Regions from separate parts of the Homo sapiens genome. Here regions 1, 2 and 3 are each linked to region 4. The links come from fine-mapping of genetic effects on gene expression. A gene starts in region 4. Each other region holds a variant in brackets. All regions are shown on one strand. Distances are from middle to middle. Region 1 has its middle 12 kb from the start of LINC01970. Region 2 holds the start of TEX19 (testis expressed 19). Region 3 holds the start of FSCN2 (fascin actin-bundling protein 2, retinal). Region 4 holds the start of SECTM1 (secreted and transmembrane 1).

The links.
Region 1: its variant is fine-mapped to the expression of SECTM1 in whole blood (INTERVAL, PIP above 0.99).
Region 2: its variant is fine-mapped to the expression of SECTM1 in whole blood (TOPMed, PIP above 0.99).
Region 3: its variant is fine-mapped to the expression of SECTM1 in whole blood (TOPMed, PIP above 0.99).

Annotation. Positions count from the first base shown.
Region 1 is chr17:82,302,197-82,307,338 of GRCh38, forward strand. No RefSeq gene overlaps it. Among named protein-coding and RNA genes, the nearest start is that of LINC01970, 12 kb to the left of the region's middle. RefSeq lists enhancers at 1-101, 1,189-1,689. The variant CA/C (reference allele first, on the strand shown) is at 2,730.
Region 2 is chr17:82,354,570-82,359,711 of GRCh38, forward strand. TEX19 (testis expressed 19) reads left to right here and starts at 4,678. Exons shown (of 2, transcript NM_207459.4): 1 at 4,678-4,716. RefSeq lists an enhancer at 1,320-2,255. The variant C/A (reference allele first, on the strand shown) is at 3,004.
Region 3 is chr17:81,523,912-81,529,053 of GRCh38, forward strand. FSCN2 (fascin actin-bundling protein 2, retinal) reads left to right here and starts at 4,466. Exons shown (of 5, transcript NM_012418.4): 1 at 4,466-5,142. The coding sequence starts at 4,621. RefSeq lists enhancers at 4,388-4,914, 4,915-5,142. The variant C/T (reference allele first, on the strand shown) is at 3,025.
Region 4 is chr17:82,331,755-82,336,896 of GRCh38, forward strand. SECTM1 (secreted and transmembrane 1) reads right to left here and starts at 2,012. Exons shown (of 5, transcript NM_003004.3): 1 at 1,946-2,012. RefSeq lists a silencer at 355-639 and enhancers at 516-1,318, 3,366-3,435.

The sequences.
Region 1 (5,142 bases), 30 kb before region 4:
GTACTCCCTTTGCAGTCCTCTGTCTCCCCCACAGGGACCCCAGTTTCTGGGCCCCCCCTCACTGCTCTTCCTGGACCCCTCTTGTCTTCAAGGAGGGGTTGGGTGGGGCTGGCTCGCTGGGAAGCTAAGCAGCAGCTGGCACTGGGCCTCCGCTGCAGGTAGGAAGTGGTGTCTGCGCTGGTGGGAACGCGGTTTACCCGCCCACACAGGCTGCTCGGCCCTTTCTCCGAGTGTGAGGTGTGCTTGGGGAGGCCGGCGGCCGAGTGGCCAGGCCCAAGGCCTTAAAGAGAAGTGGGTCTCTTCGGCTTCCCAGGCTGGGACTTTGAAGACCAGAAAACGTGAAATTAGGACCCGCCACAAGGAGAGGGAGTTGGAAAAGCCCAGGTCCCTTTGCAGATCACCCCCTTGTACTGAGGTTTCTGAAGCTCGGGGTGAGGGCGGATGCAGGGAGCGGGGCAGCCTGGTCCCAGAGCCCGGGGTCTCAGCCAGGCAGGATCGGCAGTGACCATCTCCTGGTGCCGCCCCGGGACCTGGCTGCCAGCTGCTGCTCCTGGGAGGGAGACTGGGGAGGGTGAGGGGATGCAGCCCCCGACCTGAGCAAAACCACTTCCATGGGGCTTGGGGCCCCTCCCCAGAGAAGCCCTCTTCCAAGTCACCACCAGCGTACGGACCCAGGAGGCCTGAGGCAGGCGGGGCGTCCTCCGTCTGGGTGACCCTCTCCCGGCCTGCATTATGGGGCTGGGAGCGGCTGGGCCCAAAGCTGAAGGCGGTCTTTCGGGTGCTGAGCCTTTAGCAGGGCTGGGAAGTTCCATCCTTCATGACAGAGGCCGTCAGGGGCTGCTGGGGTAGAAACCCAGGCAGGGGTCTTATTAGGACAGGCAGTCCTGTCATGGATGGAGGAGTCCCAGGTAGCTAGGGCGCCTGCTGGAGGCCCCAGGCCAGGGGTGGGCGGTGGTTTGGAGCCCTGCTCCGGGGGTGAATTCTGTGGCAGAAGAGAGACAGAGGCAGGATGCCGCCTCCGCGACCACTGTGAGAATCAGGGAGCTCAGCCCCCAGCGGTCAGCCCCGGCCCGAGTCTCAGCTTGAGCTTGCTGAGCAGCTGGGGGCGTGGGTCTGGCCGGCTCCGCACCTCTACACCGCGGCTTTCCCTCCATGGCCACGGATGGCCAGGCACTCCAGCCTTGGAGCCAGGCCTTCTGCTCCAGCCTCTGGGAGCCATTTCCCAAATCCCACAGCAGCCCCCAGTCTGTGGGTAAGGAAGGAAAGGGGCAGCTGTGTGGCCAGCACCCACAGCGTCCTCACCCTCCCCCGGTTTCTGGCATCTTCCTCCGTGGTCTAGGGCGGACTTTGATCTTCAACTCAGGAAGCACCAAGAGTTCGTGCACAGGACGGCGCAGGCTGTTGCCCCAGAAGCTAGGGGAGGGGTACCCACTGTGTGGTCTCACGGTGTGGAGCACCTGGGGTAGGCAGGCTGAGCGTGGGAACGGCCCTGGCCATTTGCGGTGGCCCTGGCCTCTGGTGCCTGTGTCCCTGTGTCGGGGGGCACCGCGTCCTGTGGGTCTTTGCACCGCACTGAGCCCCTCCTCCACCCTGCACAGCTTCTGAAGAGCTCATCCAGCTGTGGCCACAGGCCCTGGTGGCGACTCCCCACTTCTGTGGGGCAGGGGAGGTTGAGGTCTCTCCGGAGGGGACCTCTCCTTCTCCATCATTGTTACCTGGGGCAGGCGAGTGCCCTTCAGACCTCGCTGTCCTGACCGGGGCCACCTCCTCCTGGCTCAGGCTTGGTTTTATTCAAGGAGAGGCTGGGTCTCCCTGGCTCCCTGTGAGCCCAAGAAGATTAAATGCATTAAACAATGGGGTGAAGCTGATGGCTTGAACCTGAGGGAGAGGCGGATGTGCTCGGGGGGCACCTGAGGAGCCCCAGGCCCAGGGGTGTCTCCAAGCAGGCCAGCCACCTGCCACAGCCTGGAGACCGGGAGGCTCGAGGGTCCCGGAGGCTGCCCACCGGATGCAGGGCAGCTTGAGAGTCTCAGCGGGACAGCAGCTCCCGGCCCGGCGGCCGCCCATCAGTCAGCCCACCCCACTGTCCTTCACCACTCCAGCAAGTGGAGGGGCTGAGGGGGCCCCTGGGGCTGGGGGTGGGAAGGAGAAGGAGCCCTGGGGGAGAGGGGCTTGTCGGGCGAGAGAAGGGGAGGGGAGTGGAGGGGAGGCGAGGAAGGGAGGAGAGAGGAGCAGATGCGACCTGGCCCTGTCACGGGGAGGCTAGGGCCCCTCTACAAGGCTCCCGCCCTTCTTCCAGCTGCCCTCTGAGGCCCTCTGGCCTCTGAGCACCAAGAGCCCCAGGCTCCCCGCCTCCAGGCTGCTGGGTTCTGGCCGACCCACCCTGGTGGGAGCCGACTCATGTTCTCCCTGCTGACTCTGCGAGCCTGGAGGTGGCCCGGCCCCATCCATCCCCTCCCCTCCCCCTGCTCCCCACCCCTCCGCTCCTTGCCCCCTTATCTCCTTCCCTCTCCCTCCTCCCTTCCTCTCTTCCCCATGTCCAACGCCAGCTCCCGGGCCCCACTCCAGCTGCCCAGGCCACAGTGATTCCCTGTCCTGTCTTCTGAGGCCATTTTCCCAACAGCATTGGCTGAGGCAGGAGGATCACTTGAGCCCAGGAGGTGGAGGCTGCAGTGAGCTGTGATCGCGCCACTGCGCTCCAGCCCAGGCAACAGAAAGAGACCCTGTCT[CA/C]AAAAAAAAAAAAAAAGAAAAGAAAAAGAAAAAGAAAAAGTTGACTGAGTGTAAAAGTCACTTATTCTGAGGAACAAGAACCTACTCCTGGCTCCAGCTTTGCTCCTAACCTGGCATTTGGTTTTGAGGATGTTACTCAGGCCCGGAGCTCCCATTGCCACTCAACTGGGCATCCTCGTGCCTGGGGAGGCCCAGCACTGGCTCTAGGGAAAACGGGACATGTGGAAGGCTGGGGGCTGGAAATTCCTGCCATGGGGCTCGGGGGTGGTCTCAGTCCTGCCCCTGAGTTCCCGGTCGACCCTTGGAGAAGCTGCGGCAGATGGGATCTCTGACATGGGATCCGTGCTGGCGCCCTCCCTCCTGCAACACAGAACTAACAACCCCACCTTCAGGGCCTTTGATGCTGCGCACACACCACCGGCTCCGCGAGGCAGCCTGTCTGGCTGGACCTCGCTGAGGCCTGTTCACCCTGAAGCACCTGACCACAGACCTCAGCCCTCTTAAGGCCCTGGAGGGGGCCTGGCAATGTCCTCACCCGGCTGGGGTTGTATACAATTTGCTCAAGCTGTTTTGACAGCAGTTGGTCCAGACTGCCGTCTCCTCTGGCATCAGGTGCCCGGAGCAGTTCTGGGGCCCAGCTGAGGGACACTGAGCTGGGGTGTTTAGCTGGGCTTAGCTTAGTGGGGTATGTTGATGGCTGTGCAGTTGCTCCGAGACTGAGGATGTTGTTTCCAGCTGTCTGAGAGAGGGATGTTGCCCTGGATTGAATGGTGTCCCCTGAAATCCGTGTCCGCCTGGAACCTCTGAACAGGGCCTTATTTGGAGACAGGGTCTTGGCAGATGTCATCCAGTTGAGGTTACTGGATGGCCCTGAATCCCACGCGGCTGGTGTCCTGATGTGAAGAGAGAAACCACAGGCCTGGGAGAAGGCCACGTGACGATGGAGGCAGAGACTGGAGCGGCGCAGGCACAAGCCGGGAACGCCAGGGCCGCCGGCAGCCCCAGGAGCTGGGAGAGGCCTGGAGCCCGTTCTCCCTCAGAGCCTCTGGAGGGAAACAAATGATGTCACGACACTGTGGCCACCTGAAGAGGCGGCCAGAGAGCAGGCAGCAAGACGAAGCAGCAAAAATACAAGTGATCCACTCTGCTGAGTGACTGCTCCCCCCGACCCTCTGCGCTGCCCTGCATGCGGGCTTCCGTTACCACACCGTGTGTGAGCCCCCAGAGGCAGCTTCCTGCCTGTCTGTGTGGTCAAGTATGGTTATCTTTGGGTGTGGAGGAATTAAGAATTTTTATTCTCTTTTTCTTCTTTTTTTTTTTGAGACAGGGCCTTGCTCTGTCACCCAGGCTGGAGTGCAGTGGCACAATCTCGGCTCACTGCAACTTCAAACCCTGGGCTCAAGATATCCCCCTGCCTCAGCCTCCCGAGTAGCTGGGATTACAGGCACTCGTCACCACGCCCAGTTAATTTTTGTATTTTTTGTAGAGACTGGGTTTCGCCATGTTGCCCAGGCTGGTCTGGAGCTCCTGGGCTCAAGTGATCCACTCACCCCGGCCTCCCAAAGTGCTGAGATGACAGGCGTGAGCCACCGCGCCCGGCCTCGTTCTCATTTTCTTGCTTAGTTCCTGATGACAGTAAATGAGCATTTAAACAAGGTTTCATGTACACTGATGCTAGTGTCTGTTTTCTGTTTCACAAGCGTAGAGGTCCATGTTAACTAATTCATGACTTAGATCTGAAGGAGCACATTAAAAGCTTGGGCTTAAATGGGTGATGTATCTGGTTTTCTCTGTGGCTATATCATTCCTGGTTTGCATGTTTTGTCTTTATTTTTAGTTTCACCTGTGTTCATACTGGTTATATCTTATTCTATTGTTCCATTTTGTCAGAACATAAGATTGATGACTTTTGTTTTCTTCTGGTTCCTATCTGCCTCATAAGTTTTCTATCCTTTTATTTCCAACCTATTGGTGTCCTTTTGTTTAAAGTGTGTTTACAGGTGTGGTGGCTCATGTTTGTAATCATTGCACTTTGGGAGGCTGAGATGGGAGGGTCACTTGAGGCCAGGAGTTTGAGATCAGCCTGGGCAACACAGTGAGACCCGTCTCTACAAATAATTCAGAATAATTAACTGGGTGTGGTGGTGCACACCTGTAGTCTCAGCTACTCAAGAGGCTAAGGGAGGAGGATTGCGTAAGCCTGAGAGGTGGAGGCTGCACAGAGCTGTGATCGAGCCACTGCACATCAGCCTGGGTGACAGAGTGGGACCTTGTCTCAAAAAAAAAAGGAGAAAGAAAGAAAGAAAAGAAAAGAAAAGAAAAGAAGCCGGGCGCGGTGGCTCATGCCTGTAATCCCAGCACTTTGGGAGGCCGAGGCAGGTGGATCACGAGGTCAGGAGATAGAGACCATCC
Region 2 (5,142 bases), 23 kb after region 4:
GACAGAGCCCAGGAGGGTTCAGGACAGACCCCAGGAGGGTTCAGGACAGACCCCAGAAGGGTTCAGGACAGAGCCCAGGAGGGTTCAGGACAGACCCCAGGAGGGTTCAGGACAGAGCTGGCCACAGCCGGGTACAGCGCCCAGGCCCTCTCTCCTTCCTTCCTCTCCTGCAACCATTCTTCCTACTTGAGAGTAAGATACAGAGACCTTGCTTTTTGCACTCTCTGGAGAATGTGTGACTGGTGATGTTCTTTCCTCTTATTTGCTTGCCTGTTTTCTAAATGTTTGATAATGAATTTGTTTACTTTGAAATAAGCAAACAATACCAAAAGTTATTTTTAAAAGGACAGCCTCTAAGTCCATGATTACAATTTGGATGATGAGCCAGTGTGGTCGAGGGTGTTCTGATCCTCACACAGCACTGGTGACAGACCTGACCAGGGCACGTGGAGGTGCTTCCACATGGCAGTGGCTTCTTGGTCCTTCAGAAGGATGGAGGCCACCAATGGGCCACGGAGCTGAGTAGGTGGACAAAGCAAATGAGCAGGAAGGGTGGGCTGGGAGTGAGGGGAGGGTGACTGTGGTCCCCTGGATAGTCTGTTGTAAAGAAGCCACCTCGGCTGGGCACGGTGGCTCATGCCTGTCATCCCAGCACTTTGGGAGGCCAAGGCGGGTGGATCACGAGGTCAAGAGATTGAGACCATCCTGGCCAACATGGTGAAACCCCATCTCTACTAAAAATACAAAAATCAGCTGGGCATGGTGACAGGCACCTGTAATCTCAGCTACTTGGGAGACTGAGGCAGGAGAATCACTTGAACCCGGGAGGTGGAGGTTGGCGTGAGCTGAGATCGCGCCATTGCACTCCAGCCTGGGCAACAAAAGTGAAAGTCCATCTCAAAAACAAACAAAAGAAACAGGCAGCTTCTCAGAACACATCTGTCCTCCATGTCCACGGGCGCATCCCACCCCTGGCCACCACCGTGTGGCTTTTCTCCGTGGAAGCAGAGGCCATGCATCACTCCCACAGGCAGCCTCTCTCTGACGAGCCTCAGTAGTAAATTCATGCAAGAAACAAAGAAAACTGCTCCTGTCCTTCTTCAGTGCTGTGCGGAGGAGCGAGAGGGAAAAGCCAACCATAACGCCATTGCATGTGCTGCTGAAATGCTTTGTGCAAACGTTGAGACTGGAGGTGAGGGCGGAACTTTGTAATATAAGAGCAGTAAGATAAATGTTGATTTTAAAATCCAAGTACTTGGACTTTGCTAGAATATTCCATAATCTTTTCCTGGTCTTGATTATTAAACAGTTTTCAAGAAAGTTCTATTTGGTGAGTCACCTGATGATCTAAACACACTTTTCTTTCTTGTTTGATTCCAGCTGGGTCACCTGCCAACAGAACCAAGCCCACTTGGGTTTTGGAGGCTTTGGGGGCTGGCTGGTTTCCCTGGGCATGATTGGTGACCTCAGGTCAGATTCCTGGACTTGCTGGGGATCCTGTGCCCAGGAAGGCACCAGCCCAGGAGGCTCTGAGCCTCAGCCAGGGATGCAGCAGGTTGGTAGCACCTTGGCAGCCATCCCGAGGACACAGGTAAGAAGCCAACAGAGAAGCAAGAATGTGTCTTATTAAAGCTGCTCCACTCCACAAGCATCTCTGGAATGTTCTCTGGGCCCCGGATCTGCGCGAGGCATTCTGGGTGAGACAGAGACGAAGCCGCTTGAGCTCGGAAGCCGGTGCTCAAAGAGCGTGACGTGGCCTCACCCCATTCCTCTGCAGGGCTCAGCTGGCACCTGCACCCCCGAGGTAGCTGGGGGCCCCTGAGCTTGGCCAGGCCCATCTGGCAGCCTTGTCCCTGCTTGTCCACCCCCTCTGGGTTGCGTTCAGCTTCCTGAGCTCCCCCTCTTCACCCGTTCCTAACACAAGAGCTTGTGCACCCCAGGATGGTGGGGATGGGGTTCTGGCTCGTGGGCAATCTGGGTGTCAGGCTTACGGCCCCAGTGGCTCCGGGTCATGGCCTTGGCCCCACAATGGCTGTGCTGCCCCATCAGTGGTCTCTGCAGCTGGGGAAATGCCTGGTCCTTCTGGAGATACAGGAGTGTTGGATTCCCCGATTATGGCCACGTCCTGTTCCTCTGGTACCATCCACCCACCAAGTCTTGCCACGGTTTCCCTCTGGGCCTCAAATCCAGCTGTCCATCCCAACATCTGTCTCAAGTGGCCTCTCCTGTACCCAGCTGCCCAGGAAGCGATCCAAAGGCTCCGTCCCAGGCTGCTGAGGTGACTGAGGACCTTGAGAGGGTCCTACACTCTCAGACCAGGGTGAGGCCGAGGCCCGAGAGGCAAGTCCCTGCCCAGGCCCTGGCTGGCCAGGACGCGCTGGCCACAGCTTCCCAGAGTGGACGCTGCCCTGCACCCGCCAACACTTCCCCGTCAGCTTCCCGGTCCCACACCGCTCCTGCTGGCAACGAGGTCGCAGCATATTAAATTCTCGACGCAACTACTGTGTGAAAAAGCCATGCAAACCAGCGAGGAGCCTGCTTACCACAGGGGCCCTCAGAGGGCTCTGCTGCTCCTCGGTCAAAACCTCCTTTAGGCAGTGACTCTGGCAGCTGCCGGCTGGGCTGTGTCCTGAGAACTGAGGCTGGGAGGGGCCAGGTGGGAGGGACCTCATCCTCCAGGCGCCCACTGGCCCAGCCCTGAGTGTTCACGACAGGTGCAGGGCTCCCTCCCCGGCCCCCTTCTGGCCAGGGCAGCCACAGCTCAGCCCCGAGGCCTTGAGTGGCCTTTTCAGAGAAAACCAGGACCTGGGGGCTCCTCCCGGGAGCCTCTGACCCCCAGACCCATAAACAGGCTTCTCTGTGGGGTCCCTCAACCACTACTTTCCTCTCACCTGAGGGGACCAGCCAGACAGCTCAGGCACCCGAGTCTTTAGGGAATGAGCTCACTGCCCTCTCCACCCACAGCAGGACACCTGGCAGCCAAAGCCCCACACCTGCCCCTAT[C/A]CCAGGACTGGGACGAGGAAGCCCCAGGGTGAGGGGTGGCCCTGATCTGAGCCCTAACCTGGTGGGGGTGGCAGGCAGCCCCAGGTGTGTGGATGACCTGAGCCAGGCACAGACAGCTGCCAGGTGGGGAGGAGCAGAGGTCATGGGGATGTAGGGAAAGGGTTTGGGGGTTCCTCCCACAGGGCCACTGTGTGAGACAATTTGTCACTTTCTTACAAAACTAAACACACTCTGACCACAGCATCCAGCAATCTCACTCCTTAGAGTTTACCAAAATGAGTTGAGAACTTATGTCTACAGACACCTGCACATGAATATTTGTAGTAGCTTTATTCATAATTGCCCAAACCTGGGAGCAACCAAGATGTCTTTCCATAGGTGAATGGATAAATAAACCATGGTACATCCAGACAATGGAATACCATTCAGTGTTAAAAAATAAGTGAGCTGGCCATGCAAGGTGGCTCACGTCTGTAATCCCAGCACTGTGGGAGGCAGAGGCAGGCGGATCACTTGAGCCCAAGTGTTTGATACCAGTGTGGGCAACATGGTGAGGCCCTGTCTCACAAAAAATACAAAACTTATCGGGGTGTGCACCAGCACCTGTAGTCCCAGCTATTTGGGAGGCTGAGGTGAGAAAATCACAGGAGCCCAGGAGGTTGAGGCTGTAGTAGCTGTGATTTCACCAGTGCATTCCAGCCTGGGTGACAGAGCAAGACTCTGTCTCAAAAAAAAAAAAAAAAAAAAAAAGAAGTGAACTATCAAACCACAAAAGACATGGAAGAACCAAAGTGCGTATTACTAAAAAAGAAGTTGAAAAGGCTACATAATGTATGAGTCCAGCTCTGTGACATTTTGGAAAAGGCAAAATTAAGGAGACAGTCAAAAGATTCCTGGTTGCCAGGGGCTGGGAGAGGGAGTGATGAAAATGCAGAACACAGATGAATCGGGGCGGAGAAACCCGTCTGTACAATATTAGAGTGGTGGGTCTGCATGATTATACATGTGTCCAAACCTGCAGAATGCACAGCACCGGAGGAAAGCATAATGGAAACTGCAGAGGGCGATGATGATAATAACAACGTGTAACAAATGGCTGGGACGGGAGGACTGGGGAAGGCTGTGCACCTGCAGGAGCAGGGGAGCGGTGGGAGAGCTCCATGCTTTTGGCTCAATTTTGCTATGAACCTAAAACTGCTGTAAAAAATAGAGTCTACTGAAAAAACAAGTGTTAATTTATAAGCGTCTTGTTTAAAGAGCGAAGAGATGAACCACAAAGGGGAAAATGTGTTTAAACAATAACTAATTGACAATTGGCTGGTTCTTAAAATTCAGAGAACTTTAAGACAGAGACAGCAAAGCAGGGATCACGTTTTACAAACGCGGCAGGACCAGGACGTCGTGCCCACGACGGGCCAGCAACCACAGGCTGGATGCTCACCCTGTGCCAGCCTGCAGACGGAGAGCACCCACCCCAATCTCCAGCCCCCAGAGGAGCTGCCTCTCCAGGGCCTTCCTGCAGGTGCCCAGGGGCTGCACATGGCCCTCCTTGGAGGGAGCTGGTGACTCAGCACTTTCATTTCCTGGAAACTGAGGCTCATGGGAGATATGCAGATGAGCCCAGAGCACCATGGGAAATGGCCCTTTATATACCCAAATGGGCTCTGCCTCCTCCTTTCCCTGGGTGCCCACATGAACAGAGACACCAGGATGGTGAGATCTCCCGAGGAGGGGTCTCTGAGGAGGGGTCTCGGAGACACGGCCTGGTGCTGGGTGAGGGGTTGGGAGGCTGAAGCGGGGCCAGGATTCCTCAGGTTCCCTCAGTTTCCCTCAAATTTCCCTCAGTTTCCCTCAGGTTCCCTAAGGTTCTCCAAGTTCCCTCAAATTTCCCTCAGTTTCCCTCAGGTTCCCTCAGTTTCCCTCAAGTTTCCCTCAGTTTCCCTCAGGTTCCCTCAGTTTCCCTCAGGTTCCCTCAGTTTCCCTCAAGTTTCCCTCAGTTTCCCTCAGGTTCCCTCAGTTTCCCTCAAGTTTCCCTCAGGTTCCCCCAGTTTCCCTCAAGTTTCCCTCAGCTTCCCTCAGGTTCCCCCAGTTTCCCTCAGGTTCCCTCAGTTTCCCTCAAGTTTCCCTCAGTTTCCCCCA
Region 3 (5,142 bases), 810 kb before region 4:
AGCCTGGAGCACGTGCCGGTCACCATGGCAGCAGACAGCGTGCCAGCAGGAGCCCAGGCTGGGCTCAAGCATCCAGGATCAGTGGTCTAGGCATGGGGGGCTTGGGGTCCTTCCCCTTGGAGCACCAGACGGGCCAACTCGGGGAGGGGAAGGGGGACCCTGGAGCACCAGGACAGCCCGTCCACCAGCACCTCAGAAAGGGAACGATTTCCTAAGGGCTCTCGGGAAACCTGAGGGTGGACACCAGGTGCCGGTGGGGGCGCATGGCTTCCTGGTCCTGCCCAGCTGGCCCCGCACTGAGAGGGATGGAGGCCGAGGCTCAGGCCTCGGGAGGCTGCCAGGGGATTCTGATGGCTGAGGCATTCCTTGCCCTCTGGGCTCAGGTGAGGCCAGGAAGTCTGTCACAGCTGGCTGCTCCCTGGACCAGGGGGCTGGGGGTACTGCTACCCCAAACAGCCTCTCACTGCCCACCGGGACAAGGCACCCCCTCCCAGGTGCAGACCTCAGCTTGGGCCTCAGGCACACACTGGGCAGGGGCTTCCACCAGCCTCAGAGGTGGGCGAGGGTGGGGCGTGGAGCCCTCAGTGTGGCAGCGCCTTTGAATGTCGCCACAGTGCAGCCTGCACAGGTCAGGGTGGCAGGCACGTGTGTATCCCATGTGAGTGGTTGGTTGGCACCTCCGGAGGTGTGGCCACAGGGCTTGGTGAGGGTCAGTGGGAGGGGTGCTTCCTGTTGCCTGAGAACACTGCAGGGGGCTAGAGTGCCCCAGCCCACCATATGCTCTTGTGAGTTGTGTATGTCTGGAGTATGAGTGGGACCCTGGAAATAGCCTCCCTTGGGCAGTGTACAACCTGGGCTCCCTGCTGGGCAGCCCTGAGTAGGCTCTCAGGCTGGGATCCAGGATGACAGTCCCAGGGTCCAGAGTTGGCCCAGCAGGCGACTCTTCTGGCAACCTTTGCCCACCCTCATCCATGAGCACCTTCACACACACACACACACACACACACACCACACTCACACACATGCACAACGCTGCACCCATGGGCAGAGGCTCAGCCCATCATACAAGAACCCGGCCCTGTGCTGGGGTCCCAGCTGCTCAGGAGGCCAAGGTGGGAGGATCGCCGGAGCCCAGGAGTTCGGGGCTGCCACTGGCCAAGATAGCGCCACTGCAGTTCAGCCTGGGTGACAGAGCAAAACCCTGTCTCTAAGATAAATAAAAAGAACCAGACGGCCAGGCACGGTGGCTCACGCCTGTAATCCCAGCACTTTGGGAGGCCGAGGCAGGTGGATCACCTGAGGTCAGGTGTTTGAGACCATGCTGGCCAACATGGTGAAACCTCATCTCTACTAAAAATACAAAAACTAGCGGGGCGTGGTGGTGGGCGCCTGTAGTCCCAGCTACTTGGGAGGCTGAGGCAGGAGAATCGCCTGAACCTGGGAGGTGGAGGTTGCAGTGAGCTGAGATCACGCCACTGCACCCCAGCCTGGGCGACAGAGCAAGACTCTGTCTCAAAAAAAAAAAAAAAGGCTGTGCCTGGTGGTTCACGGCTGTAATCCCAGCACTTTGAGAGGCTGAGGAGGCCAGATCACAAGGTCAGGAGTTCGAGACCAGTCTGACCAACATAATGAAGCCCCGTGTCTACTAAAAAATACAAAAAAAATTAGCTGGGTATGGTGGCAGGCGCCTGTAATCCCAGCAACTCGGGAGGCCGAGGCAGGAGAATCACATGAACCTGGGAGGCAGAGGTTGCAGTGAGCCAAGATTGTGCCATTGCACTCCAGCCTGGGTGACAGTGTGAGACTCTGTCTGAAAAAAATAAAATAATTAATAATAACCAGACTCCCGACATCCAACAATCTCAGGCACTTATTAAGTACCTGCTGTGTGCCAGAAATTTTGCTGAGAATCCAGAGGAAGCGATCCTAGCAGGTGGCTGGGCAACAGCCTGGGGTCCTGAGGTGGAGGCAGGAGGGGCTGGAATCCCTGTAAACGGCCTCCCTCCAAGGAAGCCTGGCCCAGGCGCCCACCCTTCAGTCACCCTCCCCTGTTTAGCTCACACAGCTGGGTCAGTGCCAGGCAGCCCCACCCAACGTGGAGCTGTGGGGCCCTAGAACTGAGGAGCCGCCATCATTTCTGGCTCTGCCACCAAGAGGCTGCCCAGAGCCAGGCCCACTTAGTGCCGGGCGGCCAGGCTTCCCCCTGCTGAGCACCCGATGCCTAAGCGCCCTGCCAGCCCAGACAGCGCTAATGAGGCCGTCGTGCCAATCAGAGGGGCAGGCCGCCTGGGCTCCTCCTCAGCCTGGCTGGGCGTTGGGGTGTGGAGGTGAAGCCAGTGTCTGTGCCTGGGGTGGGGGGGACCATGGGCACAGCTGCCCCTCCGGCTTCCCCCACCGCTCACGGACCAACCGAGCTGTACCCTCAAAATCCAACGGGAGGCCGGGCGCAGTGGCCACGCCTATCATCCCAGCACTTTCAGAGGCCGCGGCGGGCAGATCACTTGAGGTCAGGAGTTCGAGACCAGCCTGGGCAACATGGTGAAACCCCATCTCTACTAAAAATACAAACATTAGCCGGGCACGGTAGCAAGTGCCTGTAATCCCAGCTACTTGGGAGGCTGAGGCAGGAGGACTGCTTGAGCTCGAAGGTTCCAGTGAGCCAAGATTGCGCCACTGGACTCCAGTTTGGGTGAGGAGCGAGACCCTATTTCAAGAAAAAAGTTTTTTAAAAAGAAGAGCCAATGGGAAAGTGAGGTGCAGGCAGCACCCTAGCTTGTATCCCTAAACCAGAGACAGTTCCCTGGCATCGGTGCTAGGCCTGTGTCCTCAGTCCCCTGGAAACTGTGGGAGAGTGTGTGTGGGCATCGTCTCTGGGAAGGGGGTGAAACCCCAGACTGCGTCTCCCCAGGATGGTGCCTGGCACGTGACCTGGTTTCGCACACAGTTGGTGCCTCATAAATGCGTGTGAATCATAGAGGCGGATGAGGCCAGCACACAGGGAGAGGCGAGAGCAGGCCCTGGCGT[C/T]GTGGCGTACGCTGTGCCCTGGGGGGTATTTGCATGTGGGAGTCTCTCTGCCCCCACCCTGGCCCCTGAGCGTGGGGACAGTGGGGACAGGTCTCCTCTTTTTCCTCCCCTGTGTCTGCAGGTGCCTGGCACGGTTGCTGTCCAGGGCTTAGAGGACAGAGGAAGAGCCCCTGAGTCTGTGCACACTCTGCCACCATGGCCCTGCCCACCTCTGGAGCCCACAGGTGCCCAGCCCAGGCCCCTTGCTTTTGGCTAGACTCCTGCCCTACGGGGACCCCCATGATGGCCACTCAGGAGATGGGCCCAGGAGGACAGGGGAGTGACTCCAGGCCATGACCGGAAGGGGCCTGTGGCCCCTGTTCCCAGTCCCCAGGGAGACGGGAGGGTCACACGCTGTTATGAGGAAGAGGACACCGGGCTGGCCCTGGCCCAGGGTGGCCAGCTCTGGTTTCACTACTTGGCCCCAAGCCCCTGAGGCAGGTGCAGGAGCCAGGCACGGTGAGCAGGGCCCAGTGCCCCTCAGGCTCTGGGGAAGGGGTACAGCCAGGTGGCCCAGAGCAAGGAGGTGCTGTAGACAGGTGTGACCACTTCCAGTCTCTCCCGGCCTGCTGGCCTTCATCCTCTCCCAGATTCCAAGGGCCACCGCTGGGAGCATGGGGTGGACATCGTCCCACCAGCCTCCTGGATCCACATCCGTAAAGACTCCAAAGTGAAGTGAGGCTGGCTTCACTCCAGCTCACAGCAGAGGAGGGGGCAGCCTCAGGGCCCAGCAACTTGCTCAGAGCGCACAGGAGTGCGCTGGGGCCGGGCCAGCCTGGCCCAGGGCCTCTGACTCTGCCCCCTGCCTGCAGGGCTGCACGGCCACTGTGTTCCACCCTCCAGCGTGGGTGGCAGTCCAGTGCGTCATTCTGGGGCCTGAGCAGTGTGGCCAGAGGCCGGTCTGGGGTGGAGGCGACCTGGGCTGCAGGTTGTGGCTGGGGTCCTTGCTATGCTTCTGGCAGCAGGAATCAGAGAAGCAGTAACTGGATCCAGCTGAGGGCCTGGCGGCCACCGAGGGTACGGGCGGCGATCAGGTTGCGGCCGAGCCGTGAGCGTTCCACTGGACGGCTTCTACATCCGGAAGGGCTGGGCCGGGCCGGGCCGGGAGCCCACACGGGGTTGGAGGAGGGGGGCAGGAACGAGAGAGGCCAAAAGGTGCAGGGCCGTGAAGAGGGGCGCTGGGCCCACGCTATGAGGAAAAGGGGATCAACCCTGCCCTCCAGCCCCGTAGGCCCTCAGGCCCTCGGGCTCTGGGCTCTGTGCAATCCGGGAGTGGCTGAAATCCAAGCTGAGGGTAATGAAAGGTGCTGCTCCTAAGCCGCACGTCTCTGATCCGCCCTCCCCGCCCGCCCTCTGCTGCCCGCGGGCCCTCTAAGAGCTGCCCAGGCTGCTGCCGCGGGTCAGAGGCGGGTCAGAGCAGGCAGGGGGTTCGTGACGCCGGCTGGGTCTGGGGGCTGTGGGCCAGCCGAGCCGACCCGGGCTTCTGGGGGACCGCGGGGGCCGTGAGCACTCAGAGGGCGCATCCCAGGCCCCTCCGGGGACCCGGCCAGCCTGAAGATGCCGACGAACGGCCTGCACCAGGTGCTGAAGATCCAGTTTGGCCTCGTCAACGACACTGACCGCTACCTGACAGCTGAGAGCTTCGGCTTCAAGGTCAATGCCTCGGCACCCAGCCTCAAGAGGAAGCAGACCTGGGTGCTGGAACCCGACCCAGGACAAGGCACGGCTGTGCTGCTCCGCAGCAGCCACCTGGGCCGCTACCTGTCGGCAGAAGAGGACGGGCGCGTGGCCTGTGAGGCAGAGCAGCCGGGCCGTGACTGCCGCTTCCTGGTCCTGCCGCAGCCAGATGGGCGCTGGGTGCTGCGGTCCGAGCCGCACGGCCGCTTCTTCGGAGGCACCGAGGACCAGCTGTCCTGCTTCGCCACAGCCGTTTCCCCGGCCGAGCTGTGGACCGTGCACCTGGCCATCCACCCGCAGGCCCACCTGCTGAGCGTGAGCCGGCGGCGCTACGTGCACCTGTGCCCGCGGGAGGACGAGATGGCCGCAGACGGAGACAAGCCCTGGGGCGTGGACGCCCTC
Region 4 (5,142 bases):
CGGTGACTGGCCGGGCAGCTCCGTGTGTGGCACAGGGAGACCTGGCACAGGGAGACCAGGTACAGGGAGACGAGGCGCACGGAGCCTCAAAACTTCTAGAGTGGGCCGGGCGCGGTGGCGCATGCCTGCAATCCCAGCACTTTGGGAGGCTGAGGCAGGTGGATCACCTGAGGTCGGGAGTTTGAGACCAGTCTGAACAACGTGGTGAAACCCCGTCTCTACTAAAAATACAAAAAAATTAGCCGGGCGTGGTGGTGCACGCCTGTAATCCCAGTTACTTGGGAGGCTGAGGCAGGAGAATCGCTTGAACCAGGGAGGTGGAGGTTGTGGTGAGCCAAGATCTGGCCACTACATTCCAGCCTGGGCAACAAGAGCGAAACTCCGTCTCAAACCAAACAAAACAAAAAACAAACTTCTAGAGCGGGAAAAGATGGAGGCGGCAATCAGATTTCTCTCAAACCACGAACACAGGGGTCGGTATCTGAGGCGCCGGCACCAGACACGGCAGGGTCTGAGTGCTCCCTGACAAGCGATGATGCGCAGGCTTGGAGCCATGCCAGTGACACGCCTAGGAAAGTTCACGCACCGCCCAGCACGCCTGCGCATGCCTGTTCCCGCTCCCTGGTGCCCCGGGCGCCTGCCTGTCCCGGCTCCCATGGGTGCTGGGTGTGTGGAAGCTCCGGCCCCCTCGGGCTGGGTTCATTGGGGTCCTCCTGTGTGGTCAGTGGACTCTGTACCCCCACAGCACCTGAGGGGTGGCTGACACTGCTTTCCCAGCTGCTGCAGGGGCTCAGGGAACACAGGTGACCCCACGTCTCTACCGAGAATGAGCACACCAACACCTCTCAGAAGACAGCTGCAGCCTGCAGAGGCCATGGACCCCACCCAGGCCCACGGTGTGGACGGCTCTGCCCTGGTCTCTGCTGAGCCAGGCCCAGAGGGGACCCCAGGTGAGCAGCAAAGCCCCCCAGGCCTGGGGCTAGACCGGGCTAACCCTTCCTGCTCAGCACCTGTTCACCTGTCCCCTCTGCTGGTGGCCTCCTGTCCTCCCGCTCTGGGCTCAGCAGCAGCCCCGTGGAGAGGCCCTGCCACCACCCCCGCCCTGCTGGAGACAGGCCTCCTACGCGGGCTCCTGCAGCCGGTCGCCCTGGGCCTCCTAGAAGCCGGGGATCCTCTGCTGACCACCGGCAGAAAACGTGCTTCTCAAGCTGCAGGTGATTCACCAGTAGTGGGCAAGGAACTGAATGTGGTGATTACTGCGGAGTCAGCAAAACCCGCGTGAGAACGGGCAGCTGAGGGCCTGCCGGGTGAGGGAAGCCTCACGGTTCCTGTTTCATGAGTTTGCTGTGAGTGCACACGAGGCTGTGGCTGTGGAGTGTGCAACAGTCCACGCGTGCCTGCGTGTGCTCATGTGCGTGTGTCCACCAGCTTGTGTGCACGCATATGAGCGAGTGCGTTTTGCTCCCAGCTTGGTCGCAGCGACGGCGCAGGGAACCCCGGGTGAGGCCGAGGACCGGGAAGGGAGGAGGGGGCTCCGACCCATCGGACTTAGGGGAGCCCCGGGTCCGAGACGCCGCCTCTGTCCCTTCAAGAGTCGAGCCTGGCGCACAGGGCAGGGACGCGGGTCCCCACACCGGCCGGCAGCTCGTTCCCGCCCATACTCGGGTACGCCCGCTGCGACCCCGCCCGCCTGGCCTGCGACGCACGCTCAGGGCCAGCGGGGGGTGACGGTCCCAGAGGCAGAGGCGCCGCAGCCCCAGAGTCCCCATCCCTGCGCGGACCGGCAACCCCAGTGCACCAAGAGGCCCTAACACCGAGCCCCCAGCACCGAGTCCCCAGCACCGGGCCCTCAGCACCGAGTCCCCAGCACCGAGTCCCCAGCACCGAGTCCCCAGCACCGAGCCCGCCCCTCTGGTTCCCCCGCCCGCCCCTCTCCGCGCCTCACCGGGTCCGCTCCTGGACGCGCTCCTCTGGGATGCAGCTTCTCCGCGCCCCGGAGCCCCAGGAAAATGAAAGACACGAGAGGGAGGGGCCAGGGAGGAGGCGGCGGACCCGCGCGGGACCCACCTCCCAGATGAGGAAGGAGCTGGGTTTACGGGAAGCCTCCAAGTTTCGGGAACCACCCGCGTTCACAACAAGCGTGACGGTGAATTTATTATTTTCACGGGAGGCACCGCACCCGCGGTTCACGCTAAAGGAAGCAGGAAAGCCGCCGGGAGCATTTTTCCAGGAGAGTTCGTGCCTGGGCGGGTCCAGCTCGCGTGCGGCGCGCGTTCCCCGCGGGGCTGTTTGGCTCCGCTCCTGGAGGCCTCGAGTCTGTGCACGGGGCGAGCTGGGCGGGCCGAGTGGGCCGCGGGGAGGGAGGGCGGGGGGCGGCCCCCAGATGCCTGGGAGTGCGCGGGCAGAGTGAGCTGGACCCCCGGAGGGTCAGAGGCCCTTTCATAAAAGCGCGCAGAGCAGAGGAGTGATGTCCCCCAGCTCCCCCGCAGAGGGTCCTGCACCTGCGGCCTGGGCCTTCAGGCGTCCTGCGGCCCCTGCGGAGGTGCTGGCCTGGCCAGCCCGGGAGGAGGGGCCCAGCCTGTTGGGGCAGGAGATTGGGGTGCGGGTAGAAGGCTCCAAGACGCATCCGGGCCGGGAACCCACAGACATCCCAGGTGGGCAGGAGGTGGCTCGAGGAGGCCTGGAGGACCCGGCGCCTGGCGGGGTGGCAGGCGGGCCACGTCCTCCACTAGAACCCGAGGGGGCACGCGGGCAGGTGCGGGCGGGGTCAAGGATGACCAGGTATCTTCGGGACACTAGGAGGAGGCCCCACAGGCTGCAGTCACGTGAGTGGGCAAGTCCCCACCGGGCAGATGATGGGGGACACTGGGGCGTGGGCAATGCCCCCAGTTTCATGGAAGAGAGGAAGAAGCAGAACCAAACTCCGGGAAACCCTCAAATGTGGGGAATGGACGGAGCAGGGCCAGACTGGACGCTGAACCTTGGAGCCTGCAGCTCAGCCATCAGACCCAGGGTCCAGAGGTGGGTGGCACAGAACAAAGTCCCCCGGGATGTTCCAAAAGAGAAACTGTCGCCAAATTGGCAGGTGAAACACAGCCTGTCATCCTCCCAGCAAGACGGCACCATGGCCGGGGCACAGAGGTCAGATTCCCCAGCCCCCGCCCTCGGGGAAACCCCAGCCACCCTGGCTGCCAGTGAGATGCTGGAGAGGGGGCTGAAATCCCACCTGCCCACGTCCTCTGCACAGAGGGGCTTGTCCCCGAGGCCACATCCCCCAGCAGCCACAGCTTCCTTCTCCTTTTTTCCTGCCTACTAGATCTCTCAACTCAGAGGGGGCTGCAGTTCCTGGGGGCAGGGGGGTCCGGCTGCTTAGGCAGGAGCACCTGCACCGTGAGGCTCTGGAGGGCAGCTGAAGGCTGGCAGGCTTTTGTCCCGTGAGGGGACACCACTGGGGGTTGGAGGAAAACGCATATCCTGATAAAGCATTTCATGTTGTGAAAGTGAAACTAGTTTGTTTATTTTGGAAGTAATACAGGCACAGAAACAAAATAGAATGAAACCAACTGTTGCCTTTTCCTCCCCACCCTGGCTTCAATTCCCAGGTTGAGTTATGGACACTGCCTTACCTATCCTTCTAGAAGTTTTCCTGGTCCATACAAACAGCACAGCCATCCACTCACGTTTATTTCTTTCTTTTTTTTGAGACGGAGTCTCTGTTGCCCAGGCTGGAGTGCAGTGCTGCAGTCTCGATCACTGCAACCTCTGCCTCCCAGGTTCAACTGATTCTCCCACCTCAGCCTTCTGAGTAGTTGGGATTGCAGGCATGTATCACCACGCCCAGCTAATTTTTGTAGTTTTAGTAGAAATAGGATTTCATCATGTTGGCCAAGCTGGTCTCGAACTCCTGACCTCAGGTGGTCCGCCTGCCTTGGCCTCCCAAAGTGCTGGGGTTACAGGTGTGAGCCACCACATCTGGGCAGTATCTTTCCATTTCTTTTTTTTGTTTTGAGACGGAGTCTCGCTCTGTCGCCCAGGCTGGAGTGCAGTGGCGCAATCTCGGCTCACTGCAAGCTCTGCCTCCTGGGTTCACACCATTCTCCTGCCTCAGCCTCCTGAGTAGCTGGGACTACAGGCGCCCGCCACCACGCCCAGCTAATTTTTCTGTATTTTTAGTAGAGACGGGGTTTCACCGTGTTAGCCAGGATGGTCTGGATCTCCTGACCTTGTGATCCGCCCATCTTGGCCTCCCAAAGTGCTGGATTACAGGCGTGAGCCACTGCACCCGGCCGTATCTTTCCATTTCTATACAATGCTGGGATCAGGCATCTTAGAGCGGATGTGTGGATTCATTCACCCTCAGCCTGTCCTTGAATCACAGCCTCTGCTGTGCCAGGTGACATGTGGAGTTTCATTTCCTTTCTGTTCGAGGAATTTGTAGATTTCAGTTATGATTTTCTGTTTAACTCTCCAAATTATTCGGCAGCATATTCTTAAAATCCCCAAGGTCCTGGAGCATTTGCTTTTCTTTTTTTTGGAGACAGAGTCTTGCTCTGTCGCCCAGGCTGGAGTGCAGTGGTGCGATTTCGGCTCACTGCAACCTCCGCCTCCCTAGTTCAAGCGATTCTCCTACCTCAGCCTCCTGAGTAGCTGGAACTACAGGCACGTGCCGCCACGCCCAGCTTTTATTTATTTATTTATTTTATTTTTGGTAGAGACGGGTTTCACTATGTTAGCCAGGCTTTTTTTTTCTTGAACTCCTGAGCTCAGGCAATCCACCCGCCTCGGCCTCCCAAAGTGCTGGGATTACAGGCGTGAGCCACTGTGCTGGCGGCATTTGCTTTTCTTTGTAACTTGATTCTCTGGGTTCCCTTGCCTTTCATCCTTGCCCACCCACGTGACTGCAGCCTGTGGGGCTTCCTCCTAATGTCCCGAAGATAACTCGTCATCCTTGACCCCGCCGCCACCTCGGGTTCTAGTGGAGGATGTGGCCCGCCTGCCACCCCCACAGGCACCGGGTCCTCCAGGCCTCCTTGACCCACTTCCAACCCACCTGGGATGTCTGCGCGTTACCAGCCCAGATGCCTCTTGGAGCCTTCCACCTGCACCCCATCTCCTGTCCCAACAGGCTGGGCCCCTCCTCCC